5 separate regions of the Homo sapiens genome follow, and all the other regions are linked to region 1. Evidence: fine-mapped expression QTL. A gene starts in region 1. Each other region holds a variant in brackets. All regions are shown on one strand. Distances are between the middles of the regions.

Region 1 (5,000 bases):
TTGCAACTTTTTACTAGCTTGAAATTATTTCAATTTAAAAAGCAACAGGGAATTTTAAAAATGTTTGTAAGAACATGTAGGAGAATAACTGTTCTTTTGGAGTAGTATAAGATTTTTGAATTCACATACAAAACACCAAACAGGCCAGGTGCAGTGGCTCATGCCTGCAATCCCAGCACTTTGGGAGGCCAAGGTGGGTGGATCACTTGAGGCCAGGAGTTCGAGACCAGCCTGGCCAACAAGGTGAAACCCCGTCTCTACTAAAAATACAAAAATTAGCCAGGTGTGGTGGTGCATGCCTGTAATCCCAGCTACTCAGGAGGCTGAGGCAGGAGAATCACTTGAATCCAGGAGGCGGAGGTTGCAGTGAGCCTAGATCACATCATTGTACTCCAGTCTAGGTGAGAGAGTGAGATTCCATCTCAAAAAATAAAAAGTAGAATAAATCAAAAAACCCACCAACCATAACTGAAAGAATGATATATTTGAGTAAAGTAACAAATTTATGTACAATAAAGAACTCTATATAAGTGGAGTTAAAAGACAAACGACAATGAGAAAATATTTGCTATGCCTCGGATTAGTATCCAGAATATCTCTATATCTATCTATCTATCTAAAAAAAAAAAACTACAAATGACCGAAGAGAAAAATCTGCAAAGGATATGAATAGCTGAGTCACAGGAGAAAGTAACAACCATGGGAAAACATGACCAACTGCTTAGGGAGAATTAGGGAGAAACAAATTAAAATAACAATAGTATACCATTCACACTTATTCAGATGATTATCCAAAATTATATAATTTGGTAATACCTATTGTTGAAAGGATGAACGGGGAAGGGGACTTTCTTAATTGGTTTATCTGTCTGTAGATCATCTAGCAAAATCTAGTAAAGATGAAGCCATGCACTCAGATATGTACGTAATTCCATCTTTCAGTATGTGCCCTAGATCATTGCCAAAGGAACAGGCAGAGTCGCTCACTGCAGCATTGTTGGTAACTAGTGGAAAATTGGAAACAATCTAATTGTCATCAACAGATGAGAGCAGATAGTTAAACAATTTGTGGTATAATCATACAATGCGTTTAAAATTAATGAACACTACATGTGTCAATGTGTAGAAATCTCAATAACAGAATTTTATTATTATTATTTTCAAGACAGAGTCTTGCTCTGTTGCCCAGGCTGGAGTGCAGTGGAGCAATCTCAGCTCACTGCAACCTCAGCCTCCCCGGTTCAAACGATTCTCCTGCCTCAGCCTCCCAGTAGCATATTAATATTCTACTAATATTTTTAGTAGAAACGGGGTTTCACTATGTTGGCCAGGCTGGTCTCGACCTCCTGACCTCTTGATCCGCCTGCCTCGGCCTCCCAAAGTGCTGGGATTACAGGCATGAGCCACCGCGCCTGGCCTCAATAACAGAATCAGGCAAAAAAAGCAAGTAGCAGAAATTTAGAGTGTAAAATTTATAAACACAGAAGCAATAATGGATATTGTTGATGAATAAAAAAGGAGATACAGTCCCTGCCCTGGAGGTATTTGGGGGCATTTAAAGAAATGTCAAGTAAACAGGTAATTACAATGTAGTAGGATGAAAGCCACGATCAGAATAGACACCAAATACAGATGGAGGCGGCAGGAAGAAGGTGAAAGAATATATTGAAGAAATGGCAATACCTTCTATGCCCCACTCCCACGCTGGCCTCAAGTCCTGAAAGACAAGAAGGGGTTACTTATGTGAAAGATAGGAAGGAAGGGTGTTTCTAGACGATAGTGTTATTTGCAAAAGCCCCAAGAGGAGAAACCGCAGAGCCTGATTTAGAAACTGCCAGTGGTTTCTCAGAGCTGGAGTAGATGGAGGAGGGGGCAAAGAAAGGGATGGAGGGCATTGGTAGGTGCCCTCTGACAAAAGCTCCTCAGACCAGGCTATAAGGAGTTTCACCACCTTCTGAAGGCGGCGGGAAGGCTAGATTATTGAAGCAGAAGAGTAACAGCTGCACCATGAATTATAAAAACGACGGCTCTGGAGGCAAGATCAGTTAGTTTTTTGTGTGTGTTTGTTTTTCTTTTTAAAGAAGAAAACCAGGCAAGAAACAATGGGATCGCAGCTGAAATAGACGAGGTGGTGACTGAGAGAGAGCATCGAGTCCAACCTTTAGGGCTTCAGGGAGGGATTAGACGTAGGTGTCGGGAGAGGAGGTTCCTGGCCCGGCTATCTTGGGGTGAACGATGGAGTGACAGGGGTTGCGATTTGTGACACCTGACTCCGCCCCGGCCACCCCTGATTGGGCCTTACAAACGTTTAGTTCAAATACAAAAATGGGCCGGACACGGTGGCTCATACCTGTAATCCCAGCACTTTGGGAGGCAGAGGCGGGAGGGCTGCTTGAGCCCAGGAGTTCGAGATCGGCCTGGGCAACATAGTGAGACCTTGTCTTAAAACAACAAACAAACAAACAAACAACAAATATAAAAATATCCAGAAGAAAAACTGAAGGCGGTGGTTACCATTACAACGCGTTTTCGTCAGGGTATATGTGGCTTTAGATTCATCTTGAACGTTTTAATTACAAAATAAAAGCTGATGTCTATGCAACATAGGAAAATATCGACTTGTGTAACATCTCAGTGAGCACACGGGCGTCATATTACTTTCTGTACTTTGCTGTGTGTTTGAACCACATAGCAAAAAACTGTTGGCGACAAGAATTGGAAAAGCAAGAAAGTACAAGAAAGGCTTTGAGTTCTATAAGGGGGTTAAACCAGAAAGCGGCGGGGGCAGGGAACAGTCAATCTTTGTGTGTGCACACTGCGTGTGCAGAGAGAAGACTCCTCAGGAGACCAGGACCTGGCTGAGTGTGTGCGGGGATGAAGCGGGTGGAGGGGAACTGGGGCTGGGGAGGAGGTACGCGCCGCGGAGGTGTCCCCCGCCCCCCACGATCCTTCTCGCCAACCCCCCGCCCCTCCTCCCTCCGTGACGCCGCTTCCCGTCTCCAGGCAACGTGGGGGCCAAACAACACGGCCGGGAGGCGCCGCTGCCTGCCGGGCCCTCTCTTCTGGGACCCTGGATTTTCGGACACTGAGCGCCATGGCCCTGCCTCTGCTGCCGGGCAACAGCTTCAACCGCAACGTGAGTAGGAAGGGCGTCCGAGGTCACAGCTCCCGGCTGGAGTCTGGGGTCCAGGCAGGGTCGTGGCGTGGCCACCTCCGCAGACTCTCCTGGAGGCCCCATGCTGCTGCCCTGGGTTGGTGGCAACTTGGACCAAACTTTATAGGCTGCTTCTCCCATCTCTCCAGCTGCATCTGAATGTTTTTCCTAATTTAGAAATATATAGAGAGAGTCCTTATAGGTGGCAGGACCCTCAAAGGTAACAAATAATAGTGACGATAACCATTGGGGGTTTAATGTGTGCCAGGCGCTGTGCTTTAATCACCTTATGCAGCATCCAGTGTCCCAACAGCCCTTTGAATTAGGTAGTTTTTATTCCCAGTTACTATTGAGGAAACTGAGGCACAGAACCACACAGTCTCAGTGGTGAAGCTGGGTTTCTTTCAAGCAACCTTGTCTCCACAGCTCAGGAGCCTAATCATTATCCCCAGTATCCTGTGTGAAAAAAGATACCGTTTCAATTATCAAATTGAAGAAATCTGGCACTTATCAAGAGGGGTAGGTGGCAGATAAGAGTTCTATCAGCCTGTAAAGTTTACTCCCAAACTTTATAGAGACAGGCACCCAAACTTGGAGGGATTTTTTTTTTCTCTATTTATAATTGGGAGGGGTTCATTTCTTTTTTTTTTTTTGAGACGGAGTCTCGCTCTGTCGCCCAGGCTGGAGTGCAGTGACCCGATCTCGGCTCACTGCAACCTCCACCTCCCAGGTTCAAGCGATTCTCCTGCCTCAGCCTCCCGAGTAGCTGGGATTACAGGCGCCCGCCACCACACCGGCTAATTTTTGTATTTTTAGTAAAGATGGGGTTTCACCATGTTGGCCAGGCTGGCCTCGGACTCCTGACCTCAAGTGATCTGCCCGCCTCGGTCTCCCAAAGTGCTGGGATTACAGGCTGAGCCACTGCGCCTGTCCTGGAGGGGTTCATTTCAAAAGAAGATGAACGTACAGAACAAAGCAACACAACACAAAAAACCCTGAGCATGAAAGAACTTTTGCCAATAAATAGCACCTCATTTAAACGACAGCAGGAAAATGATTCAGGCTTTTGTTTATACTGGTTACTACCCTTCACTTGGGTCAGCCATCTGTGTCTGCAGGAGAAGCTAATTCCCAATTAGATGGGAGGGAATTAGATGGAGCCACTCAAGGCAATTGTGTAAACCTTTGATAACTTTAGAAAGCAGGCAGCAGATTGAAGTATTTGGCTTTATGGTTTCCAAACACTGTCTGTATCTAAGTTGTTGGCCCTGAAGTACAAGTTTTTTCTTTGTAGCTTCACGCCATTGAATTCTGACCCCTACACGTCTGGTCAGTCCAACTTTGAACACTGATTTGTGCATTTCTTGGTTGATGGGCAGAGGCTGGCCTTCCAGCATAGCATTGCCCTTTGGTAAGTTTAAGCCAGTCACGCAAACAAGAAAGGCCCCTGAGAGACGGGACATGAAAACAGATTCCAGAAGTAAAGAAGCATGCTGTGTAAAAGTAATTTTAATAAAAAATGAAAGTAAAGCCTACAGCTTTTTGCCCAGCAACACTCTGATTACCAGTGCCTGCCTCCTGCAGAAGTATCATAGCTCTCACGTGCAGTGATTAAGGATGGGAAGGAAAAACAGTGGATGGATGAAATATTAATAAATCTGCAAGGTTCTGCGTATATTTTTGCTTTTTAAAAAACTTTAAGATCATGAAGTACAACACATATACAGAAAGATGCACAATGGATGATCACAAAATGAATATCAAGAAATTAAATATGGGGGCTGGGCGCAGTGGCTCACGCCTGTAATCCCAGCACTTTGGGAAGCAGAGATGGGAGGATCCCTTG
Region 2 (6,568 bases), 89 kb after region 1:
CGTGATCCACCTGCCTCGGCCTCCCAGTGATCGCCATTCTAACTGGCGTGAGATGGTATCTTATTGTGGTTTTGATTTGCATTTCTCTAATGACCAGTGATGATGAACTTTTTTTCATATGTTTCTTGGCTGCATAAATGTCTTGTTTTGAGAAGTGTCTGTTCATATCCTTTGTCCACTTTTTGATTTTTTTTTTTTTTGTAAATTTGTTTAAGTTCCTTGTAGATTCTGGATATTAGCCCTTTGTCAGTTGGATAGATTGCAAAAATTTTCTTCCATTCTGTAGGTTGCCTGTTCACTCTAATGATAGTTTCTTTTGCTGTGCAGAAGCTTGTTAATTTAATTAGATCCCATTTGTCAATTTTGGCTTTTGTTGCCATTGCTTTTGGTATTTTAGTCATGAAGTCTTTGCCCATGCCTATGTCCTGAATGGTATTGCCTAGGTTTTCTTTAGAGTTTTTATGATTTTAGGTCTTATGTTTAAGTCTTTAATCCATCTTGAATTAATTTTTGTATAAGGTGTAAGGAAGGGGTCCAGTTTCAGTTTTCTGCATATGGCTAGCCAGTTTTCCCAACACCATTTATTAAATAAGGAATCCTTTCCTCATTGCTTGTTTTTGTCAGGTTTGTCAAAGATCAGTTGGTTGTAGATGTGTGGTGTTATTTTTGAGGACTCTGTTCTGTTCCATTGGTCTATATCTCTGTTTTGGTACCAGTACCATGCTGTTTTGGTTACTGTAAACTTGTAGTATAGTTTGAAGTCAGGTAGTGTGATGCCTCCAGCTTTATTCTTTTTGCTTAGGATTGTCTTGGCTATACGAGCTCTTTTTTGGTTCTATATAAAATGTAAAGTAGTTTTTTTCTAATTCTGTGAAGAAAGTCAGTGGTAGCTTGATGGAGATGGCATTGAATCTATAAATTACCTTGGGCAGTATGGCCATTTTTATGATATTGATTCTTCTATCTATGGGCATGGAATGTTTTTCCATTTGTTTGTGTCCTCCCTTATTTCCTTGAGCAGTGGTTTGTAGTTCTTGAAGAGATCCTTCACATCCCTTATAAGTTGTATTCCTAGGTATTTTATTCTCTTTGTAGCAATTGTGAATGGGAGTTCACTCATGATTTGGCTGTCTGTCTATTATTGGTGTACAGGAATGCTTGTGATTTTTGCACATCGATTTTGTACCCTGAGACTTTGCTGAAGTTGCTTATCAGCTTAAGGAGATTTTGGGCTGAGATGATGGGGTTTTCTAAATATACAATCATGTCATCTGCAAACAGAGACAATTTGACTTCCTCTCTTCCTATTTGGATACCCTTTATTTCTTTCTCTTGCCCTGGCCAGAACTTCCAATACTATGTTGAATAGGAGTGGTGAGAGAGGGCATCCTTGTCTTGTGCCAGTTTTCAAAGGGAATGCTTCCAGCTTTTGCCCATTCAGTATGATATTGGCTGTGGGTTTGTCATAAATAGCTCTTATTATTTTGAGATACGTTCCATCAATACCTAGTTTATGGAGAGTTTTTAGCATGAAGGGGTGTTGAATTTTATTGAAGGCCTTTTCTGCATCTATTGAGATAATCATGTGGTTTTTGTCATTGGTTCTGTTTATATGATGGGTTACATTTATTGATTTGCATATGTTGAACCAGCCTTGCATCCCAGGGAGGAAGCTGACTTGATCTTGGTGGATAAGCTTTTTCATGTGCTGCTGGATTTGGTTTGCCAGTATTTTATTGAGGATTTTCGCATCAATCTTCATCAGGGATATTGGCCTGAAATTTCCTTTTTGTGTTGTTGTTGTTGTTGTGTCTCTGCCAGGTTTTGGTATCAGGATGATGCTGGCCTCATAAAATGAGTTAGGGAGGAGTGCCTCTTTTTCTATTGTTTGGAATAGTTTCAGAAGGAATGGTACCAGCTCCTCTTTGTACCTCTGGTAGAATTTGGCTGTGAATCCATCTGGTCCTGGGCTGTTTTTGGTTGGTAGGCTATTAATTACTGCCTCAATTTCAGAACTTGTTATTGGTTGGTCTATTCAGGGATTTGACTTCTTCCTGGGTTAGTCTTGGGAGGGTGTATGTGTCCAGGAATTTATCTATTTCTTCTAGATTTTCTGCATAGAGGTGTTTATAATATTCTCTGATGGTAGTTTGTATTTCTGTGGGATCAGTGGTGATATCCTGTTTATCGTTTTTTATTGTGTCCATTTGATTCTTCTCACTTTTTTTCTTTATTAGTCTGGCTAGCAGTCTATCTATTTTGTTGATCTTTTCAAAAAACCACCTCCTGGATTCTTTGATTTTTTGAAGGGTTTTTTGTGTCTCTATCTCCTTCAGTTCCACTCTGATCTTAGTTATTTTTTGCCTTCTGCTAGCTTTTGAATTTATTTGCTCTTGCTTCTCTAGTTCTTTTAATTGTGATGTTAGTGTGTTGATTTTAGATCTTTCTCACTTTCTCCTGTGGGCATTTAGTGCTTATAAGCACTAAATATATAAATTTGCCTCTAAACACTGCTTTAGTTGTGTCCCAGAGATTCTGGTATGTTGTGTCTTTGTTGTCATTTGTTTCAAAGAACTTATTTATTTCTGCCTTAATTTTGTTATTTACCCAGTAGTCATTCAGGAGCAGGTTGTTCAGTTTGCATGCAATTGTGCGGTTTTGAGTGAGTTTCTTAATCCTGAG[T/A]TCTAAGTTGATTGCTCTGTGGTCTGAGAGACTGTTTGTTATGATTTCCGTTCTTTTGCATTTGCTGAGGAGTGTTTTACTTCCCATTATGTGGTCAACTTTAGAATAAATGTGATGTGGTGCTGAGAAGAATGTATACTCTGTTGATTTGGGGTGGAGAGTTCTGTAGATGTCTATTAGGTCCACTTGGTCCAGAGCTGAGTTCAAGTCCTGAATATCCTTGTTAATTTTCTGTCTCGTTGATCTGTCTAATATTGACAGTGGGGTGTTAAAGTCTTTCATTATTATTGTGTGGGAGTCTAAATCTCTCTGTAGGTCTCTAAGGACTTGCTTTATGAATCTGGGTGCTCCTGTATTGGGTGCATATATATTTAGTATAGTTGGCTCTTCTTGTTGCATTGATCTCTTTACCATTATGAAATGCCCTTCTTTGTCTTTTTTGATCTTTGTTGGTTTAAAGTCTGTTTTATCAGAGACTAGGATAGAAACCCCTGCTTTTTTTTGCTTTCCATTTTTTTGGTAAATATTCCTCCCTCCCTTTATTTTGAGCTTATGTGTGTCTTTGCATGTGAGATGGGTCTCCTGAATACAGCACACTGATGTGTCTTGACCCTTTATCCAATTTGCCAGTCTGTGTCTTTTAATTGGGACATTTAGCCTGTTTACATTTAAGGTTAATATTGTTATGTGTGAATTTGATCCTGTCATTATGATGCTAGCTGATTATTTTGCCCATTAATTGATGCAGTTTCTTCATAGCATCAATGGTCTTTATAATTTGGTATGTTTTTGCAGCAGCTGGTACTGATTTTTCCTTTCCACATTTAGTGCTTCCTTCAGGAGCTCTTGTAAGGCAGGCCTGGTGATGACAAAATCTTTCAGCATTTGCTTATCTGTAAAGGATTTTATTTCCCCCTTGCTTGTGAAGCTTAGTTTGGCTGGATATGAAATTCTGGGTTGAAAATTCTTTTCTTTAAGGATGTTGAATATTGGCCCCCACTCTCTTGTGGCTTGTAGGGTTTCTGCAGAGAGGTCTCCTGTTAGTCTGATGGGCTTCCCTTTGTGGGTAACCCGACCTTTCTCTCTGGCTGCCCTTGACACTTTTTCCTTCATTTCAACCTTGGTGAATCTGACAATTATGTGTCTTGGGGTTGCTCTTCTTGAGAAGTATCTTTGTGGTTTCCTCTGTATTTCCTAAATTTGAATGTTGGCCTGTCTTGCTAGGTTGGGGAAGTTCTCCTGGATAATATGCTGAAGTGTGTTTTCCAACTTGGTTCCATTCTCCCTATCACTTTCAGGTACACCAATCAAACGTACGTTTGGTCTTTTCACATAGTCCCGTATTTCTTGGAGGCTTTGTTTGTTCCTTTTCATTCTTTCTTCTCTAATCTTGTCTTCACGCTTTATTTCATTAAGTTGATCTTCCATCTCTGATATCCTTTCTTCTGCTTAATCGATTCAGCTATTGATACTTGTGTATGCTTCACAAAGCTCTCGTGCTGTGTTTTTCAGCTCCATCAGGTCATTTATGTTCTTCTCTAAACTGGTTATTCTAGTTAGCAATTCCTCTAACCTTTTTTCAAGGTTCTTAGCTTCCTTGCATTGGGTTAAAACATGCTCCTTTAGCTCAGAGGAGTTAGTTATTACCCACCTTCTGAAGCCTACTTCTGTCAATTCATCAAACTCATTCTCCGTCCAGTTTTGTTCTCTTGCTGGCGAGGAGTTGTGATCCTTCGGAGGAGAAGAGGTGTTCTGGTTTTTTGGAATTTTCAGCCTTTTTGTGCTGGTTTTTCTTCATCTTTGTGGATTTATCTACCTTTGGTCTTTGATGTTGTTGACCTTCGGATGGAGTTTTCATTTGGACATCCTTTTTGTTGATGTTGATGCTATTCCTTTCTGTTTGTTAGTTTTCCTTCTAATAGTCAGGCTTCTCTGCTGCAGGTCTGCTGGAGTTTCCTGGAAGTCCAATCCAGACCTTGTTTGCCTTGGTATCACCAGTGGAGGCTGCAGAACAGCAAAGATTGCTACCTGTTCCTTCCTCTGGAAGCTTCGTCCCAGAGGGGCACCCTCCAGATGCCAGTCGGAGGTCTCCTTTAAGAGGTGTCAACCCCTGCTGGGAGGTGTCTCCTAGCAGGAGGCACAGGGGTCAGGGACACACTTGAGGAGGCAATCTGTCCTTTAGCAGAGCTCGAGCACTGTGCTGGGAGGTCTGCTGCTCTCTTTAGAGCTGGCAGGAGGAACGTTTAAGTCTGCTGAAGCTGTGCCCACAGCCACCCCTTCCCCCATGTTCTGTGTCCCAGGAAGATGGGAGTTTTATCTATAAGCCTGTGACTGGGGCTGCTGCCTTTCTTTCATAGATGCCTTACCCAGAGAGGAGGAATCTAGAGAGGTAGTCTGGCTACAAAATCATTGCTGAGCTGTGGTGGACTCCGCCCAGTTACAACTTCCTGGCAGCTTTGTTTACACTGTGAGGGGAAAACCGCCTACACAAGCCTCAGTAATGGGGGACGCCCCTCCCCCCACCAAGCTCCAGCGTCCCAGATCGACTTCAGACTGCTGTGCTGGCAGCGAGAATTTCAAGCCATCGGTCTTAGCTTGCTGGGGGGATCCACTGAGCTAGACCACTTGGCTCCCTGGCTTCCACCTCCTTTCCAGGGGAGTGAGCAGTTCTGTCTCACTGGTGTTCCAGGCGCCACTGGGGTATGAAAAAAAAAAAAAACTGCAGCTAGCTTGGTGTCTGCCCAAACAGCTGCCCAGTTTTGTGCTTGAAACCTAGGGCCCTGGTGGTGTAGGCACTTGAGGGAATCTCCTGGTCTGAGGGTTGCAAAGACCATGGGAAAAGCATAGTATCTGGGCCAGAGTACACTGTTCCTCACAGCACGGTCCCTCACGGCTTCCCTTGGCTAGGGGAGGGAGTTCCCTGACCCCTTGTGCTTCCCGGGTGAGGCGATGCCCCACCCTGCTTCAGCTCGCCCTCCGTGGGCTGCACCTACTGTCTAAGCAGTCCCAATGAGATGAGCCGGATACCTCAGTTGGAAATGCAGAAATCACCCTCCTTTTGCATTGATCTCGCTGGGAGCTGCAGACCAGAGCTGTTCCTATTCGGCCATCTTGCCAGCCACCCCCAGAAAAAGATCTTTTGTGCCAGGAATTGAGAATAAATACCAAGAACAGCTAAGAAATGTTTTAAATAATTTCCTTTCAGAGTAGGAACATCATTTTAGCATTTATTCCCTCAGGGAGAAAATTCTTCAATAAATATAGTAATCTTTGGGAAATTAGGAGTTTAATAAGAGGCTTCTATATTGACTTTCATACATTTACTTCTGCAGTGTTTGCTGTCTTGAACTGTAAAGTTAAAATTAAACAATTTAACTTAGACTGAAAAGAATCCCATATATTATCAATAATGCTTTTCTTAGAGGCCTCATAATGCCAAAGAAACATTTTTCAATCAATTGAAATAGTGGTCCCATAATTTCATTTAAATATCAGAGATAAGACTGAAGAGTCTTTGGAAAGCCATCATGTCTCCCCACTGTCTTGGGTTAAGACTGCACCTAGACTGCCCTCGACAGATAGAAATTTCAAAAATTTACAAAAAGATTGTATAACCTGATTTGGGATAACATCTCCCTTGTCAGTGTGCACTTCCTTATATAACAGTCCTATTTGGTTACATCAGATGAAATGGGGGCAGTTTAACTCCACGACAGGGCTGCGAAAGTGCAAATAGAGGGAAGAGTTGCATCAAGAAGACTATGGAACTAACTAGTGGTTCCTGGGACAGAGGACAGCCGAGGCAGAGGCTCTGCAGACCTTAAGACCTTCTCCATTTGCTGTGCTCCTGTTTCTCCGGGGCATTCTTATCCTTGATACCTAAAGC
Region 3 (6,568 bases), 32 kb before region 1:
GCAAACTCAGTACTAAAAATGTAGTTGCAATTCCACACACAACAGATGAGGTGTGGACTTAAAAAAAAAAAGTGACTGAAGTGAAGAAGAAATGTTGCCCAGAGGTGTATTTTTATTTTTGTTATTTTACTAAGTACCTGCATATAAAAATTGATATTAAAAGCAGCTGAAGCAAATTCTAATGGGTGGGGAATGATTTTAAAACAGAAACAGTGGGCCACTGCACTTTCTTGTAATTACTCATCTGGGTAAGGGCTTCAAAATGTATTAGCCATAAAGGAAAGACTTCAGACAGACATCTGCAACCCAAAATGCTTAGGCTGTTTCAATTATGATGACTATTTTAAGTATTCACTCACTCACTCTCTCTCTCCCTTTTTTTTTTTTTTTTTTTTTGAGATGGAGTCTTGCTCTGTCACCCAGGCTGGAGTGTGGTGGCGTGATCTCACCTCACTGCAACCTTCACCTCCCAGGATCAGTCGCTTCTCCTGCCTCAGCCTCCCAAGTAGCTGGGATTACAGGCACCCGCCATCACACCTGGCTAATTTTTTCCTTTATATTTTTAGTAGAGATGGGGTTTCACCATGTTGGCGAGGGTGGTCTCGAACTCCTGACCTCAAATGATCCACCCACCTTGGCCTCCCAAAGTGCTGGGATTACACCGTTTCCGATCCTTCTTTCTCTCTCTCTCTCTCTCTCTCTCTCTCACACACACACACACACACACACACCCTCAAGGCCCAAATATATGTTGATTCATTTTACTAAAAGGCCTTTGCTTTAGATCTTAAGAGATGGGAATAATGACACAAGCCACGAGGAGAGAAAAAAAAGCACCCATGAGATAAACTGTTACCTCAGTGCAGTAAAGAGTTAACATAGAGTCCTAACTGCTTATCCTTAGAAAGGCTTGCTCACAAGGTTGGCTCTTAGCTGGTATCCCAGAACTTGAATTTCAGGAGGGTTCCCACCATTTCTAGAATTGGTAAGAGTGGCTCACTGTGCCTAAACTTCATGCAAGCAATGCGGTTTATGCTGAACATCTATCTGCTTTCCTTCTGGGAGTCTGGAATTTGGGTACCTGCCAGGCAAGGGGTACTTCCATGACCAGCCCCCCAGGAAAAGCCCTGGGTGCTGAATTTCTAATAAGCTTCCCTGGTAGACATTTCAGAACTCATTGCTGGGGAAATCAAGTACATCCCTTGTGACTCCACTGGGTGAAGATTCTTGGAAGCTTGCTCCTGGTTTCCTCCAGACTTCACCCCCATGTGCCTTTTGCTTTTGCTGATTTTGCTTTGGGTCTTTTGGCTGTGATATATCCGCACCATGAGTATAACGGTATGCTGAGTCCTGTAAGTCCTCCTAGCAAATTATGGAAACTGAGGATAGTCTTTGGGGTCCCCCACTCCTCCAACAGCAGTTTGGATGCTTTTACAACCTTACTTGAAAATTATTCTTATTTAATACTCTCATACCCTCTCCTAGCATATTTTCCTCTTGGATGTGCTGCAAATATCCAGTCACAGAAGAGCCGGCGTTTAAAAACAAATTTCATTGTTACATACATAGTCCTACAAAACAAAATATAGCTAGAAGTTAAAATTTCCCCCCAAATAAGCCAGCCATTTCTGTCTAAACTTAAAGTATTAGAATATTGTAACTGACTTGATGAAAAAATCCATAGGCACTTGCCACCTTTTGGGAATATTCTGTTTCCCTGTCAAGTCACCTGCCAGACTTTCTAAAAAAGAGGAATGTCTGAGATTTCTTTTTTTCTCTTTCCCACCTGGCAAATCTCTACTCAGCCATTGTGTTAGTCTGTTCTTGCGTAGGTATAAAGGAATACCTGAGCCTGGGTAATTTATAAAGAAAAGAGATTTATTTGGCTCACGGTTCTGCAGGCTATAGAGGAAGCATGGTGCTGGCATCTGTTTCTGGTGCAGCCTCAGCAAGCTTCCAATCATGGTGGAAGGCGATGGGAAGCCAGCATGTCATATGGTAAGGGTGAGAGCAAGAGAGAGGGGAAGGTGCCACACGCTTTTAAACAGCCCAATCTTGCATGAATTAACTGAGTTAGAAGTCATTCATTACTTCAAGGAGGCACCAAGCCATTCGTGAGGGATCTGGCCACGTGACCCCAACACCTCCCACTAGGCCCCACCTCCAACATTGGGGATCATATTTCAACATGAGACGTGGAGGGGACAAACATCCAAACCATATCAGCCTTCAAAATTTATTTCAGATGTCTCCTCCTCAGTGCAGTCTTCTTTTGTAAAAAAAAATTTAACTTTTATTTTAGATACAGAGGGTACATAGGCAGATTTGTCACATGGGAATAGTGTGTGATGCTGAGGCTTGGAGTATGGATCCCATCACCCAGGTAGTAAGCATAGTACCCAATAGATAGTTTTTCAACCCTTGCTGCCCCCTCCCTCCCCGCTTTGGTAGTTCCCAGTGTCTATTGTTCTCATCTTTAAGTCCATGTGTACCCAGGGTTTAGCTCCCACTTATAAGGGAGAACATTTGGTTTTTTGTTCGCACATTAATTCGCTTAGGAGTATGGTCTCCAACTGCATCCATGTTGCTGCAAAATACATGATTTCATTCTTTTTTATGGCTGTGTGGGATTTTATGATGTATATATACTACATTTTCATTATCCAATCTACAATTTATGGGCACTTGGGTTGATTCCATGTCTTTGCTATTGTGAATAGTGCAGCAAAGAACATATGAGTACATGTATCTTTTTGGTAGAATAACTTATTTTCCTTTGAGTAGATACCCAGTAATGGGACTGCTGGATCGAATGGTAGCTCTGTTTTAAGTTCTTTGAGAAATCTCCAGACTGCTTTCCACAGTGGCTGGACTAATTAGCATTCCCACCAACAGTGTATACGCATTCCCTTTTCTCCACAACCTTGCCAGCATCTGCTGTTTTTTGACTTTTTAATAATAAACATTCTGATTGGTGTGCGATAGTATCTCATTGTGGTTTTGATTTGCATTTATCTGATGATTAGTGATGTTGAGCATTTTTTTCATATGTTTGTTGCCTGCTGATATGTCTTATTTTGAGAAGTGTCTGTCCGTGTCCTTCACCCATTTTTAATGGGGTTATTTGGGTGTTTTTTTTTTGCATGTTGTTTAAGTTCCCTATAAATTCTGGAAAATGAAATACCTAGGAGTATAGCTAACCGAGGAGGTAAAAGATCTCTACAAGAAGAACTAAAAAACACTGCTGAAAGTAATCAGAGATGACACAAATAAATGAAAAAACATTCCATGCTCATGGATTGGAAGAATCAATATCATAAATATGGCCATACTGCCCAAAGAAATTTATAGATTCAATGCTATTCCTATCAAGCTACCAACGTTATTCTTCACAGAATTAGAAAAAAAAA[AC/C]CTATGATAAAATTCATACAGAACCAAAAAAGAGCCTGAATAGCCAAAGCAATCTTAAGTAAAAAGAACAAAGCAGGAGGCATCACACTATCCAACTTTAAGCCATAATATAAAGCCCAGTAACCCAAACAGCTTGGTACTGGTACAAAAACAGACACATAGACCAATGGAACAGAATAGAAAACTCAGAAATAAAGCCACACACCTACAACCATCTGATCTTTCACAAGGCTGACAAAAACAAGCAATGGGGAAAGGATCCTCTATTCAATAAATGGTACTGGGATAACTGGATAGCCATATGTAGATTGAAGCTGGACTCCTACCTTTCACCATATACAAAAATTAACTCAAAATGGATAAATATTTAAATAAAAAACCTCAGATGATAAAAATCCTTGGCTGGGCACAGTGGCTCACACCTGTAATCCCACCACTTTGGGAAGCTGAGGCAGGTGAATCACTTGAGCCCAGGAGTTCAAGACCAGCCTGGGCAATATGGCAAAACCCCATCTCTACAAAAAATACAAAAATTAGTAGGGTGTGGTGGCTTGTGCCTGTAGTCCCAGCTACTCAGGAGGCTGAAAGGATCACTTGAACCTGGGAGGTGGAGGTTGCAGCGAGCCAAGATCGTGCCACTGCACTCCAGCCTGGGCAACTGAACAAGACCCTGTCTCGAAAAGAAAAAGAATAAAAAAAAGGAAAAGAAAATAAAATCCTATAAGACAACCTAGCAAATACTCTTCTCAACATTGGCCTTGGCAAATAATTTTTGGCTAAGTCCCCAAAAGCGATTGCAACAAAAACAAAAATAGACAAGTGGGACCTAATTAAACTAAAGAGCTTCTGCACAGCAAAAGAAACTATCGGCAGAGTAAACAGACAACCTACAGAATGGGAGAAGATATTTGTAAACTCAGAGAGGCCTTCTAAACACCGCCAGGCTAAGTGGGTCCTTCCTTTATCACTTTGCACGTTGTATTTTGTGCCCACCTCTTCTGTATACTGATCATGTTACATTAAGATGGCTTCTCTCTCTCTCTCTCTCTCTCTCCAGAACTTTGAGGTTCAAGACTATATCTAACGATCCACCAATTCCCAAAGCATACCTAAGTAGGTGACACAAAGCAGGGACCCAGAGATGATTGTTTACCATAGGGGAGGAAAAACTTCTTCCACCCTCTTAGTGTCTCTGGCTGGGTCTAAAAACTGAACTGACAAAGTGAAATTAACAGGAAAAAAATCACACAAATGTATTTAATGTAAGTTTTATGTGACATGGAACCTTCGTAAGGAAATAAAAACCCAAAGAAACTGTTAAACCTGAGCAGTCCTTTCTGTACCTGCTGTTTCTCAAATTCCTTCGGCTTAAAACATTGAACATGCCAAGGTGCCATATTTTGGGGATAGTGTGTTCTGAACTCCATCATCGCATAATATTAAATGAATCATTAGGCATCTATTTAATTCATAGATCAAATATATTTGTGTTTGAGGGACACAAATCTTTTACGAATTGTGGTACTCTGAGATATAACTGAACGATCTTGAAAATTTTTTGAAAACTGTAGAGCATTATATTACTTTTGATTTTTAGTAATTATCATCATCATTGAGAGTTTGTATTATTATTATTACTGTATAAAAACACAAGTCCTGGAATTTTGAAAATCTGAAGTTGAGCATTACTGTTCTAGCTGTTGCTGTGGAGCCAGACAATATCTCATTACACAATATTTCATCTTTTTAGAAACTGACCAAACATGATCACAGAGGAAGCAGCAAAGGGCTAACAGTTGTACTACTTTAAGGCAAACCAGGTAACAAGAAAGTACTATGGGCCAGTGGCTCTGGTCTCTTAAAGATCAACAAGGACCTCCTACTTAGCAAATACAGTGGCCTTTTCACCTTCAACTCTCTGCAGTGTCTGAAGCTGTTGCCTTCCTGTTTCTTGAGAGACTCTCTTTCTTTGCTTTCTAGGACTCTGCACTCTATTATCCACCTTCCAGTTTTTCTGTCCCTTCTCTACTTTCTTCTGTGGCTTTCCTTCCACCTCCCACCCCTTAAATGTGTTCATTCCATGATATTCTATCCATAGCCCTCTTTTCTTTCTATTCCCTCCCTTAGGAAATAAGATAGTTAACAATTATTAAGCATTTACTATTTAGTTTAATCCTCAGACTATGGTATAGGTAATATCTCCATTTAAAGATGAGGAAACTGAGGCCCAAAGAGGCTAGGTAAGCAGTCCAAGACCACATTACTCATGAGGATAGAGGCTGGGATTGAAACTCAGACAATCTGGTTTCAGAGTCCAGGCTCTTAACCACTCCATCACTCTTTCTAGGCAGCATCTATGAAGCAGGACCCTTTGGTTCAGTCTGGAAACCATTTGTAGTAGAATGCTGAGTCTGGAAGACCTGAGGATTGGCTGGTTTCTTGTGAATTCCTGAAAGGAATCTCGATCTCAAAATCAGTTTATTTAAAACAGAAGCCGCCATTTACTCTGAAGTTGTGAGACCAGGCAATTGAAAAATTCTTGGCAACACTGATCTCACACTTGTTTCCCTTATGACTTTCCTGTCTCTGTTATTAATGCTACTGTTCATGCTTTCATCAGACACCAAATCTGAGTTATCTTCGGGTCTTTCTCTTTCATTTTCCAAATCCAATCTGTTGTTTAGTTTTGAACATTCATGTATATAATTTGTCTTCCATATTCACTTCAAATCTCCCTTGTTATTTCTCATCTGTTCTCATATGTTTGTAATAATCTCCCAACCTGTCCACCTGCCTCATTTTACCTTCCTTTACCATTCTATAGAGTAGATCTCTACTGGCTGATAAATAATAGCCTCACTCCTTAGCCTCACTTATAAGCCACTTCTCAGTTTGGTGTCAAATCATCACATTCTCAGCCTTATCCTATCCCCAACTCCAACCCAACTGTTCTACCTGTCAATTCTTTTTATGTTTTGTTTTGTTTTTGTTTTTGAGACAGAGTCTCACTCTGTTGCCCAGGCTGGAGGGCAGTGGTGCAACCTCAGCTCACTGCAACCTCCGCCTCCTGGGCTCAAGCGATTCTCCCACCTCAGTAGCTGGGACTATAGGTGCACACTACCAAGTAGCTGGGACTACAGGCACACACCACCAAGTA
Region 4 (6,568 bases), 25 kb before region 1:
CAGATATCCATAGTCCCACAGGGAAGAGAGATGGGTAATATAGAGCATGCTATAATCCACACATGCACATGGTGGCAAGGGAAGAGAGCAAGCAGATCAGCTAACTCTTCTGAAGGGGATAAAGGAGGAAGGCATAATGATGGAGGCTTAACAGATAAGTTGTTTGAGTTCCATGACTGTATCAATTCAAAGTAACCTCTTAACCCTCCACTTACTTTAGGTAAGACATAGACATCACAACCATCACGCATTGCATAATACCAGGCACACTGTCATCTTTTGTGAAAAATATTTAAGGGAGGAATGAACACATTTCTACCAGATTGTAAGTTCCTGAAAAGCGGGGGTGGTGGTTCTCTTAGATTGCATGCTGTAAAGTGCCCACTAAGTAATCCTTCAATTAGGTACATCTGTTAAATGCCATTGATTGGAATTAACTTTTCAGTTGGGCACATCTGAATGCAGTGGAAAGCTTATTTCAGGATTTAAGAAATATTTGCATCACTTTAAAGGAGCTTATTAAATTCTAAAAAAACATCCAATTTAAAAGCCTTTTTATTGAACCAAGAGTGAAAGTAATGAAAACCAATTTCGTGAAGTTAAAAAAACAGTGAGACTCTTAATAATAATTGTTTTTGAACTCCCTATTGCTTGACTCAATACATTTTGTCTCTAGGTAAAACTTTTCCATCCTCCTGGGAACTCCCTAGCCAATCCCAAAGTTACACAATAATTGAAGTTGTTAACTACTCTGCCAAGTGCAGATCATTTGCCTGGGAGTTTGAATCACTTTTAAAACTTGCTAATATTGCTTGTGGTGAAGGAACACTTCATGGATGGTTCAGAAAATTCCTGCAGATTCACTTCAGGTTTTTTTCTCAAGTTAAATTAAACTATTATTAAATTTCATATGTTTTGTTAGACATAGCATGTCTAGTCCAACTGTATTCTTATGAAATTACTTCGGGGTGTCTGGATGTGTTATATTCTCTATATCCATCATTGGATCTGTTGACATTGGCTAATTCCACCTGATGAGACTCTGGGGGATTTGTACTTTGATGTATTTCTTGAGTTTTTAAAAATAAAGAGCATTTCTCATTTTTATAAAATCAATTATGTCATTACTTGATTTAAAAAATTTTACTCTCTGTGTTTCAGATTCAATTCAGACAACAAAAGCCTATTGAGTTTCTACTATATGCTAAGATGCAACGTTGAACAGGATGGGGTCTATTCCCTCAAGGACTTTTTAGCTCAGCTGGAGAGAAAAACATATTCATGGACAAAACATGTATGCTGGCAGTATGCACAGGGGACAATGGGAACAGAGGAGGAGGTCTCTTAGAAGAGAGAGCCCTGGCATGACAAGGAGGACAAATAGTAATTGACCAGGAGGCTGGGGGCAGGAAAGGCAGAGGTTCCAGCATGAGCGAAGGGTTAGAGATAAGAAACGACGTGGTTTATATGGCTCACTGCAAGCCTCGCTAGGATTACTGGTGAATAACGTGCTTTTTGAGACAAGGTCTTGCTCTGCCACCCAAGCGATCTTCTCACCACAGCCTCCTGAGTAGCTGGGACTACAGGCGCCCAGTTCATTTCTATACATTTTGTGGATAGATACAGTCAGTATAGGTACAGTGCTGGGTATAGTCAGTATGGAAAGATACTAGAGAGGTGTCCAAAGGCCAGCTCAAGAAGGGCTTCTTCGCTACTCCAAGCCAGCCATGCCATGCTAGGGAGCTTAGCAGGAAATGAGGCACCATGGAAGGGTTGTGAAAAAGAAAGTGACGTGGTCAGATTTGCAATTTAGGTAAATCATTCAGGTGGTACCAGGTATGGATGCGAGGCAGGCAAGACTAGAAGCTGAGACCGCTTGGGAGGTCTTTTGCTACGATTCTTAGATTGAATTAAAGCAATGAAAGCAGGAGTAGAGAAATGAGTGGTGGGTTTGAAGCATATTTTAGTGGGTGGAATTACCAGGGCTTGGTGTTTGATTGCTGTGGAGGGTGAGAGGAGAGCCATAGGTTCATCCTCAGGTTTCTGGTTGTGTGTCTTTTGCTGAGATGAAAGACAGGAGATAAATTTCAGGGGAAAGTGTAATGAGCACTGTTTTGGACTTTTTGGATTACAGGGGCCAATGGACCACCCAAGCGGGCCCATGCAGCAGGAATTTGGATGGGGTATTCTGTAGGGGAGGAAAAAATATTTTTTTTCTTCTACCCTCCTAGGTTCTCTGTTTGGGGCTCAATAAATTAGGTTGACAAAAGACAGATTAACAAGAGAAAAGCATACATATTAACTAAATATAAGTTTTATATGACATGAGAGTCTTCAGAAGGAAATGAAGAGCAAAGAAATCATTAAACCTGAGCATCTTTATACTGGTGTGATAAAGAGTGAAGAGTCATGAAAAAGTGTGATAAGATAAAGCGGTATAAGCTAAGGATAGTTAACCGGGGGAAATTTAGCAAGGCCTGTTCATTTGGATTCTTCTTGGTGTCCCATCTTCGGAGATAAGGATGCCTCTTTCTTCTAGGTCTAGGGAGGGCACCTCTCACATGAGGGTCTTCAGACCTGCTTCAGGGGAAGGTCAGAGAGTCCTTTCTGTACCTGCTGTTTCTCAAATTCTTTCAGCTTAAAATATTCAATATGCCAAGGTGCCATACTTTGGGGTAGCATGTTTTGAGCCCTATTGATTCTAAAGCTTAGGGGACATTTCTGGGCTAGGGCATAGATTAGGAAGCACTTATGGTTAAGTGCATGAGGTCAAGTCGTATCAATCAGAGAGCATGTTAAGAAGTTATAGACTGAGGATGAGAATCAGGGAGATTGAGAGAGGAGCGTGAAGGAGACACAGAAATAACATTCAGGGGTCATGAAAAGAGGCCCCAGAGAGTGCAATGCTATTGAAGCTGGGGCACTAGGGACTTTCTAGGAGGAACTAGTGGACCCCAGTGTCAACTGCTTCAGGACAATCTAGAAGGTAAAGACAGTAAATGTCTGGGCCAGGCACAGTGGCTCATGCCTGTAATCCCAGCATTTTGGGAGGCC[T/C]AGGCAGGTGGACCGCTTGAGGTCAGGAGTTCAAGAACAGCCTGGCCTACAAGGTGAAACACTGTCTCTACTAAAAATACAAAATTTAGCCAGGAGTGGTGGCATGCACCTGTAATCCCAGCTACTTGGGAGGCTGAGGCAGGAGGATCGCTTGAACCTGGGAGGTGGAGGTTGCAGTGAGCCAATATCGTGACACTGTACTCCAGCCTGGGTGACAGAGTGAGACACTGTCTTAAAAAAAAAAGACAGTAAAATGTCCATTGGGTTTGACAATCAGGGGTTCATTTGTAACCTTTGTCAGAGAGGTTGCAGCAGGTGAAAATAAATATTCTAACCTTGACCTGCACGAGGGCAGGCCTATGGGTAATGGGAGATTTATTTCCCAACTTAAGCCAGTCCAAGTCAATTAAGCATCTTTATACAGTCATGTGTTGCTTAACAACAGGGATAGGTTGTGAGAAATGCATCATTAGGGTGATAGGGTGCGGACATCATAGAGTGTCCTAACACAAACCTAGATGGTATCGCCTACTACACACCTAGGCTATATTGTATAGCTTATTGCTCCTAGGCTACAAACCTGTGCAGCATGTGACTCTACTGAATACTGTAGACAACTGTCACACAATGGTAAGTATTTGTATTTCTAAACATAGAAAATACATAGTAAAAATATGGTATAAAAGATAAAAAAAGATACACTTGTAAAGGACACTTACCGTGAACGGAGCTTGCAGGGCCAGAAGTTGCTCCTGGTGAGTGAGCGAGTGGTGAGTGAATGTGAAGGCCTAGGACATTACTGTACACAACTGTACACTTTATATACACTGTCCACTTAGACCACACTAAGTTTATAAAAATATTTTTTCTTGGCTGGGCACAGTGGCTCACGCCTGTAATCCCGGCATTCTGAGAGGCCAAGGTGAAAGGATTTCTTGAGCCCAGGAGTTTGAGACCAGCCTGGGTAACATGGCGAAAGCCCTGTCTCCACAAAATGTATAGAAATGAGATGGGCGCCTGTAGTCCCAGCTACTCAGGAGGCTGAGGTAGGAAGATCGCTTGGGTGACAGAGCAAGACCTTGTCTCAAAAAAAAAAAAAAAATTTCTTTTTATTTCTTCAATAATCAATTAGCCTTAGCTTACTATAACTCTTTTACTTTATAAACTTTTTTTTTCATTTTCCTTGTTTTTGAGATGGATTTTCACCCTTGTCGCCCAGGCTGGAGTACAATGGCACGATCTCGGCTCACTGCAACCTCTGCCTCCCAGGTTCAAGTGATTCTCCTGCCTCAGCCTCCTGAGTAGCTGGGATTACAGGCATGCACCATCATGCCCGGCTAATTTTGTATTTTTACTAGAGACGGGGTTTTACCATGTTGGCCAGGCTGGTCTTGAACTCCTGACCTTAGGTGATCCACCTGCCTTGGCCTCCCAAAGTGCTGGGATTACAGGCATGAGCCACCGCGCCTGGCCAACTTTTTCATTTTTTAAACTTTTTGACTCTTTTATAATAAAACTTAGCTTAGAACACAAACACATTGTACAGCTATACAAAAATATTTTCTTTCTTTACATCCTTGTTCTATGAGGTTTTCTCTATTTAAAATTTTTATAAATGATTTTTTTCCTTTTTATACTTTTTTGTTAAAAATGGAGACATAGGCACACACACTAATGTGTGCTAATGCCTAGGCCTACACAGGGTCAGGCTCATCCATGTCACTGTCTTCCACCTCCAATTCTTGTCCCACTGGAAGATCTTCAGGGTCAATAACACGCATGGAGCTGTCGACTCTTGTGATAACAATACCTTCTTCTGGATACCTCCTCAATCACTTGCCTGAGGCTGTTTTACAGCTAACTTTTTTTTTTCAATAAGTAGAAAGAGTACACTCTAACATAACAATAAAATCATTTTATAGTATAGTAAATCCGCAAACCAGTAACATAGTCATTTATTATCATTATCAAGTTTTAGGTACGGTACATAATTGTATGTGCTGGATTTTTATACAAGTGGCAGCGCAGTAGGTGTGTTTACAGCAGCATCGCCACAGGCATGTGAGTAATGCATTGTGCTATGGCATCACGATGGCTACTGCGTCACTAGGACAATAATAATTTTTCAGCTTTATTATAATCTTATGGGACCGCTGTCATATATGCAGTCTGGCATTGACTGAAATGTTGTTACGTAGTGCATGGCTGTATCGCCATTGCTGGTGTGGGGAGTGCATCTTAGGGTGCCATTCCACTCAGAGTGTAGCCCTTGTAGGATCCCAGCCTTGTTTGGGCCCCGGGCGTCTTTCTTGCTCCTGCAGCCTATAGACTTTAGTAGTGTCCTAGTTACTGAGGTTGAGAAACTAACCTGGGGTAGAGCAGCTGACACCATCATTGCCTGCTCACTACTCTGATTCTCAGTATCCTCTACATTTTTGGATCCTACGAGTTTCCTTACTTTCATCAAACTCAGCTATCTATTTAAAAGGAATTTATTGCTTTTTGAATCCAGGCTTTATACATGCCTCCTAGTGTTTAAAAGGATAGCTATTGTATAATATTGCCAGAAATGAAAGCATAGTTCTTGTTCTGTACATTTATTAAATACATCGCATGTACATAGTTTTTCTTTAGCCCCACGTCTATCTTATTTTGTTGCTTTACCACCTTGCCTTGAGTTCTTCCTTTATTAAATTCTTCTAAAGCCTAAAATACTCTTGTGGGGATTTTCTTTTCTATTCCTTGTTATGAGGTATTATTCATCCAGTATGTTGCCAGGTTCAGTTATTTTATTTTATTTTTGAGACAGAGTCTCCCTCTGTTACCCAGGCTGGAGTGCAGTGATGTGATCTCAGCTCACTGCAGCCTCCACCTCCCAGGTTCAAGCGATTCTCCTGCCTCAGCCTCCCGAGTAGCTGGGACTACAGTTGCACACCGCCATGCCCAGCTAATTTTTGTATTTTTAGTAGAGACAGGGTTTCACAGTGTTGGCCAGGCTGGTCTTGAACTCCTAACCTCAAGTGATCCGCCTACCTTGGCTTCCCTAAGTTCTGGGATTACAGGCATGAGCCACTGCACCTGACCCAGGTTCAATTTTCTAATATTTTATTTAAGATTTTAGCATCTATGTTATAAGTGAGATTGACTTGTAGCTTTTTTCTTACTCTTTTCTTCGTTAACTTTTCTCTTTCCCTTTTCCACTCCTTCCCTTCCTTCCATTTTTTCTCTTTTTGTCTGGTACTCATGTTAGGATTTTGCTAGTTGGCATCACAGAGAGTTGGAAATGATAGATTTGTAAGTTCTTTAACAGTATAACAAGAGAGAACCTGTTCTTTAAAGAGCTAGGAGACATCTCTCATCAAACCTTCTGGACATGGTAGCGTTTTTGCATATTTTTGGTTACCTTTTACATTTCTTCAATAGTTATTGGTTTATTCGGGTTGTCCACTTTTTATATTAAAATTATTACATAGTCAAAGGATACAAAATTTCAGTTAGACAGGAGGAGTAAGTT
Region 5 (6,568 bases), 200 kb after region 1:
GCTGGTCCCTATGCCTGGAATACCCTTCACAACCCTAAACCCTCTGCTGAACTGTTTTTCATCCCATAAGGTGCAACTGAATCACCACTTATTCAGCTTGCTTCCAAAATTCCATCACATCAAATTATTGAGCCTTTACCTATGTTTCTGTGACACCTTGTGATTCTGGATACTAATGTAACACTAGTAAAGATATAGAACCTCTTATATACAACAATTAACCTTGACAGTCATATTTTAACCTTGAAAGTAGAAATATAAGCAACCATATGTATGAACTTTGCCTCCTGTTGATATTAATTAACCATTGAGGCATATGCAAAAAGTTTGTGTGTGTGTATATACACGTATTTATGTATTATATAAAATGTGCATCTGTGTGTGTATATGTGTACACACACACACACAAATAAAGTGGCTTATCTGCAAGATCATACTGTGAGTGATCCAGTGTTCTTTTCATTGTTTACTGAAGAAACAGTAACCAATCAGCCAGTATAGATACCAGTTTGTATTTTAAAAATTGGGTTCTTTAGGCAGCAGTTCACGTCTGTAATTCCAGCACTTTGGGAGGCTGAGGTGGACATATAACTTGAAGCCGGGAGTTTGAGACCAGACCAGTCCGGCCTATATGGCGAAACCCGTCTCCTAGAAATACAAAAATTAGCCGGGCATGGTGGCATGTGCCTGTAATCCCAGCTACTCGGGAGGCTGAGGCATGAGAATCACTTGAACCCGGGAGTTGGAGGTTGCAGTGAGCAGAGATTGTGCCAGTGTACTCCAGCCTGGGCAACAAAGTGATACCCTGTCTTTAAAAAAAATAATAAAATAAAAATAAAAATTGGGTTCTTAAGAAAGTATAGGAGGATCTATCAGCGTATTCATGCTGCATAACAACTCCTTAAATTTCAATGGTTCACAACAAGACACATTTCTTTTTCTTGTCTATGGGCATGTAGGTCAGTGAAGCATGGCTGGATTCAGCTAAGCTTGGCTCTTAGTCCGCAAGTCCAGCCTGGTCTGATCCACCTTGGTCATTCTAAGAACAGCAGCATCCTGGGCCATGTTCTTTTCATGGTGATGGCAGAGGCACAGAAGGCCAAGCCAAATGATGCCAGCACGCTAGAGCCTCTGTCCATGATATGTCTGCTAATAGTACATAGGTCAAAGCCAGTCATGTGGCCAACCCCATATCAAAGGAACAGGAAAATATACCCTTCTTACTCCACAGGAGGTTCTACAGAGTCATATGACAAAGAGTGTGGGCACATAATTCTTATACAGGGAGGGAATGAAGAATCAAGAACAAGTATCCAGTAGACCACAAAGTCCTTATGAACCTAAAGTAGATGGTAGAAATTTTCACTTTGCAAATAAACTGGTGTTGAATTTTCAAAACTGTACTTTGAAATGTGGTTCTAATCATATCCATTTTTGGTTTTTTTCTAGAGATGTGAAGATGTTTGGCTTGGTATGCCATCACCTATTCCTGCGAAATACATTGACTACTGGACCTTTTTGAAGGACGCGTTTGGCTTAGAGGAGGAATAACCATGCCAGTTTTGGTCAATTCTCTATGATTTACTTCTCTCATTTTGCCACATTTACTTTAGTAGATATAATTTCATTAAAAACAAAAAAGAAACAAGGTTTATATTAAATGGAAATCCATAAACCACAATTAATCCTATTTTGTCATGTTAGTTTTACAGAACATCATGTTACATTGCCGACGTACTGTTACTATTTAAAATGCCATCTTAAAACATGTTGAATATTTTTATTATATGTATGGTTTATTAATACCAAAAAATCTTCTGATAATTTTTGATCCAACATAATTTGATTCATTACTATATGAACAGAAAATGACTTTTGAAGGTTATACATGACAATACAAAATCAAATTATATCACAGCAATAAGTTGTGATTCTATTAAACATTTTTGAAACCTTTTTGACACGTTTATTACTTACATAATTAAGTTTTGTAGCAACCCACCTCATCAAAATAATTCTTAAACCTCTCTAGAGTAAATATATTTATCTTTTGAACTTAGTAAAGCTATGGGAAGAAAAAGAACCTCCAACACACACACACACACACACACACACGCACGTGCACACACACTGGAAACATATGCAGTATTTATATTTGTAATGCCCTTTTTTCTATCTAAAGTCAGCTTGTTAGCTTAGGAATATATGCATGTGTGTATAATTATAGTTTGACCAAAACTTTATTATGTCTAAAATATTTACAAATGTGAAAGCTGAAGATTTTGAGATTTTTGTTTTTTTTTTGGTTTGTTTTACACACACATCCCACGCGCCCCACCCTAGAGGTTTAAATATTCAGAAACTACAACATTTTTCCCCTGCATTTTTCTAGTTCTATTTTTATTTTTCTTCAGCAGAACTCTTGTCATGTAGTGTACATTTGATTAAAACCCATAGCCATGTACCTCTGGGAATTCAGTGTAAGAAGTCTATCCCAGTCTATGCCATTGTTCAGTGTTGGATGCTATGTATCATAAATCCATTTGCCTGGTGTTCTGGGAGACAATGGAGGTCTCAAAAAGGAGCTGCACCATTTACCTTTCAGGGACTACCCTGAGAAAAAGAAGAGCTGATGACATCTCAAGGGACCCTTCGGACTCATTATTCTTTCACTCCACATTTGCAGCAGTGTCTTGCTGGCTTCTTGGCACTCAAATGTACCAATTTATTCTCCACAACAATGGCCCTTTCATTTTTAAAAAATTGGAGTTAATCAATAAACGATTTCTATATGTAAGCCTAGGATAATTCCACATGTGCTATTGTTAGAATAGA[C/T]GCTCCTCCCAACCCTTTCAGGACTTAACACTAAACTAGTATACTCAATTTATATACTAAAACTATCTACCATAAATCCTAAATTTGACTACTTGATTTTTGTCCCAGGTTTTTTTTAAGGCAACTGACAGTGCCAAGCCATTTTGTCACTTTAAGATTTTTCATTCCCCAGAGAGCAGGCTTTTAGAAGGATGACACTTTCCTGGAACTTTTCAAGCTGACACATTCGTCACTTACCTATTCAACTCTTCAGTCAGTTGTCTTTCCTTCAAGAGTTTAAATACGTAGATAATTTAGCCCTTGTAGAGGCTCATAATGTAGTTCATTTGAGAAGTGGGGGGAGAAAAAGAAAGGAAGCAAACCAATGACAATGCTCCTGAGTTGTGGGGTGACAACTGCTTATTCTATTGCATAGATGTGTGTTACTGCCCTGGTTGTTTCTGGTTCAAGCCCACAATTAGCAATGAAATGGCCATTATAGGATTCATGCCGATAAACATGATACGTTGCAGCCATACAGACACTTTAAATAATCATTCTTTTTATAACTAAGCCATATACTGGACAAGATTTATAATTTAGAGATAATATCCCCATTAGTAAAGTTTATGACCCAATAAACAGCTCCCACTAGTTAATAAATGCCAAAGCCATAAAAACAAAGACTATTAATGTAATAGAATTTCTGTACCTCCCTCTTTTGCTGGTGGTCTCAAGACACTGAAGGGAAATGCTATCTTAGGAAAAACATTTATTCTCGTTATGTAAATATCAGTGAATTGTCTTACAATCCATCTGGAAGTCTCCCAGCCCCCCTTGGTCCCAGGTGGTCCTGAAATGCTGATGCATTCTGCTTAGGTTTCAAGCAGTAGATAACTCTGGCTTTCAGCACAAATAAATCCCGAGACTAAAATTTTGGGGGGAGGAGGACTGGAATTTCTGCCTCTTCTCTTCCCTCTGCAAAAGAGAAATCCCAACTATTGTCATTGTTCCAGGGTAATAATTTGAAAGAAGTTTCACAACCTTTCCATATACTTATATTTTCAGCTGCTAACATGATCTCATTTTGATGAAAAAGCAAGTGCCACCTTTGGATGTCTGGGTGAGTTGAAGGTTAATATAGGCAAACCTTTTGTCCTAAGAACTAATTGTTATTTAGTATTCTTGGAACTGTGGGAATGATTGATAAAGCCATTTGAAAACCCAAATCAAATCATGTCTTTTCATACAAAACTGATTAAAAGCTGTTGAAGTTCACATTAAGTGGTTTGCTGAGGCACTGTTGTGAGGTATGATGTCGCCAGCAGAGGATTAATTTGCAGTACTTATTTGCCTTTTATTACCTTTTTTACCTAACCACTTGAAAAGTAATGTGGGTAAGTCTGTTGGTTTACTTTAGCTTAAGTTTACTAAAATGGTTAAAATTTTAGACAACAGAGGGGAGATTTGTAACTTTCAAGCATTATAATAGTTTAAACATTTTGCCTACTTTATTTCCTGTATTGCCTTTGGTTCAATTACTGACAAATATACTATTCTTGTTATTTTTTTTTTTTTAAACGCTAGAGTATTTGAAGTTTGATTATTTGGAGTCATAGAGCTTCCAGGCTTTATGGACCCCTCAGTCATGAGTTTAGAATATTTAAATTGCCCTTCCTTCTTTCAAATAGGGCATTATTGATGAGTAAAATGAAATCTCAAATCAATACAAAACACAAAACTCTTGCCTTTCCAACTGGAATTTATCTTGAGTTGGGGTTGCTTCCTAGCCTTTTCTATTTATTTCTTCTTTCTCCTTTCCCTTCCACCACACATTATGATTTTGCTATAAGTTTAGTAGTTGGAGTCATAACGAAATAGGGCCTTCCACAAAATATTTATGATATTGAATAATGCAGAATCCATTATAATAAAGTGCCATGCTCTCAATTACATGTACATTCATTTTAGTTATGAGTATAGATCCCTGAATTTTCAATACCCTAAAAAACGGTCTGTAAATGACCTTTCAGACAAACAGCTTCCCAGTGATGGTAGAAACATATACACGAGTGATGTGTCTCTGCTCTAATGTTTGTTTGGGCAAAGTCTGAATTGCTTCAAGTTGAAGGCAGGTTAAGACCTTTTCAAAAATGAGTGTTTTCAAGTTGACTGAGCATCTTCAGAGACACCGTGCTTTTCAATTCCCAAGAGAATGTAATGTGTAAAAATGGAAAGCCCACTGAGGCAAGATCAATGAGGCTGTTTAGAAAATAATAAACCTGGAGCGATAATGGAGCAAACATTCATTATTACAAAGGGTAGGGCTGACTGTGCAATTAGTTTAAGAGAATTTTGTAACTCACCTCCTCCGCTTATTCTACCAGGTTATACATATTGGTTTAAATATACATTTTCATTCAAGGTCAATTAAGTTCCCTAAAACTAAGAGTTCTGAGACATCTTTGTCAACAGAGTGGCTAGAATATGCATCTTCTTTGTAATTTGTTCCTGGTCCCCAGTAAAATTCCTTGCAAGGGGACTTTCAAGCCCATTATGTGTCTGGTGTGTGGTACACACAGGAGCCCGGGGTCAGCACTGCTGCTCAGAAGCAACTTGGTAAAAGCTAAAAAAATGTGGCCGATGAAAAACTCCACAGTGGCTCTGCAAGCAGAGAATTAATGACTCGCTGGAATCAGTAGGAGCCTTTACTTCTAAATACTCATTAGTTAAAGCAGTGAGGCCTGATGTTATGCAAGTTAGAGAGGGAAAGGGGGGACTGCCCCTCCCCATTGTCTATTTTGAACAGAATATGCACATTTAACTCAAAGTGCTGAATGATTCAAATACATCAAACCCACTATTCATCAGTCTCCTAGCTTCCTGAGCACCACTTTGCATCTGTGTAAAGCCAACAATAGAGGAAAGCTTGTTATGACCCCACTATAATATTAAAATCCAGAGGAGCTGATAGCTTGGTGAAAACATAAAAATGCATTCTCCTTTAGAAATACTTCCACCAAAGTCATCTTTGTGTTTCTTTTTTCCTACTTTGCCTATACAACAAGAACCTCTGACTGAAATAGGAACTTGATAACATTACTTTTGCCTGCTTTTTTCTCCTGTGCTACCACTGGTCATTATTGCTGTGAGGCCACCCGTTGAATAAAGAACAGGAGCTGAACGGCCATTTCAGGCGCCTGCGAATACCCCCAGTTTTAACTATGACTGGAGCTAGGAGAGTGAGAAGGGAAGTGGCAAAAGATGACCATTTTAGAGGGGAGTCGGGACAAAAATAGGGACCACCTTGTGTGTGACTCATGTTGAAGAGTTTGCACTTCATCCCAAGGGAATGAGAAGTTTCTGAAATATTTTAATCTGGGGAATGGAAAGATCATGTCTGTATTTAAAAATCTCTGGCTGCTTTGTGTGTGTGAACTCTAAGAGTGTGTTTGGCGGCAAGAAGACTGATTAGGAGACTGTTGCCAGAGAAGTGATGGGTAGTTTGGATTAATGTAATGTTGGTGAGAAGTGGAGGGATTCACGATGCATTTGGGATGTTGGAGATGAGGGAGAAGAAATCAAAATTATGACTGGGTCATTTTCACAGCTGGATAGATGGTGTTGCCTTTCATTGTGCTGGGATACATGAGAGAAAAATCAAGTGAAGGGAGAATATCAAAAATTCTGCCTTGGGCATGCTGAATTAGGGTGCTTGCGGAACTGATAAGTGGCCATGTTAAGGCAGCTGGAT

What was found.
Region 2: its variant is fine-mapped to the expression of EFHC2 in whole blood (TOPMed, PIP 0.98).
Region 3: its variant is fine-mapped to the expression of EFHC2 in whole blood (TOPMed, PIP above 0.99).
Region 4: its variant is fine-mapped to the expression of EFHC2 in prostate (GTEx, PIP 0.96).
Region 5: its variant is fine-mapped to the expression of EFHC2 in whole blood (TOPMed, PIP 0.98).

What each region holds. Positions count from the first base shown.
Region 1 is chrX:44,341,683-44,346,682 of GRCh38, reverse strand. It overlaps EFHC2 (EF-hand domain containing 2), which reads left to right and starts at 3,011. Exons shown (of 15, transcript NM_025184.4): 1 at 3,011-3,136. The coding sequence starts at 3,095.
Region 2 is chrX:44,252,068-44,258,635 of GRCh38, reverse strand. The region is part of intron 4 of EFHC2 (EF-hand domain containing 2); the gene reads left to right. Among named protein-coding and RNA genes, the nearest start is that of EFHC2, 88 kb to the left of the region's middle. RefSeq lists enhancers at 4,318-5,170, 5,171-6,024. The variant T/A (reference allele first, on the strand shown) is at 2,683.
Region 3 is chrX:44,373,053-44,379,620 of GRCh38, reverse strand. No RefSeq gene overlaps it. Among named protein-coding and RNA genes, the nearest start is that of EFHC2, 33 kb to the right of the region's middle. The variant AC/C (reference allele first, on the strand shown) is at 3,411.
Region 4 is chrX:44,365,991-44,372,558 of GRCh38, reverse strand. No RefSeq gene overlaps it. Among named protein-coding and RNA genes, the nearest start is that of EFHC2, 26 kb to the right of the region's middle. The variant T/C (reference allele first, on the strand shown) is at 3,055.
Region 5 is chrX:44,143,778-44,150,345 of GRCh38, reverse strand. It overlaps EFHC2 (EF-hand domain containing 2), which reads left to right. Exons shown (of 15, transcript NM_025184.4): 15 at 1,450-2,474. The coding sequence ends at 1,551. Among named protein-coding and RNA genes, the nearest start is that of NDP, 170 kb to the right of the region's middle. The variant C/T (reference allele first, on the strand shown) is at 2,836.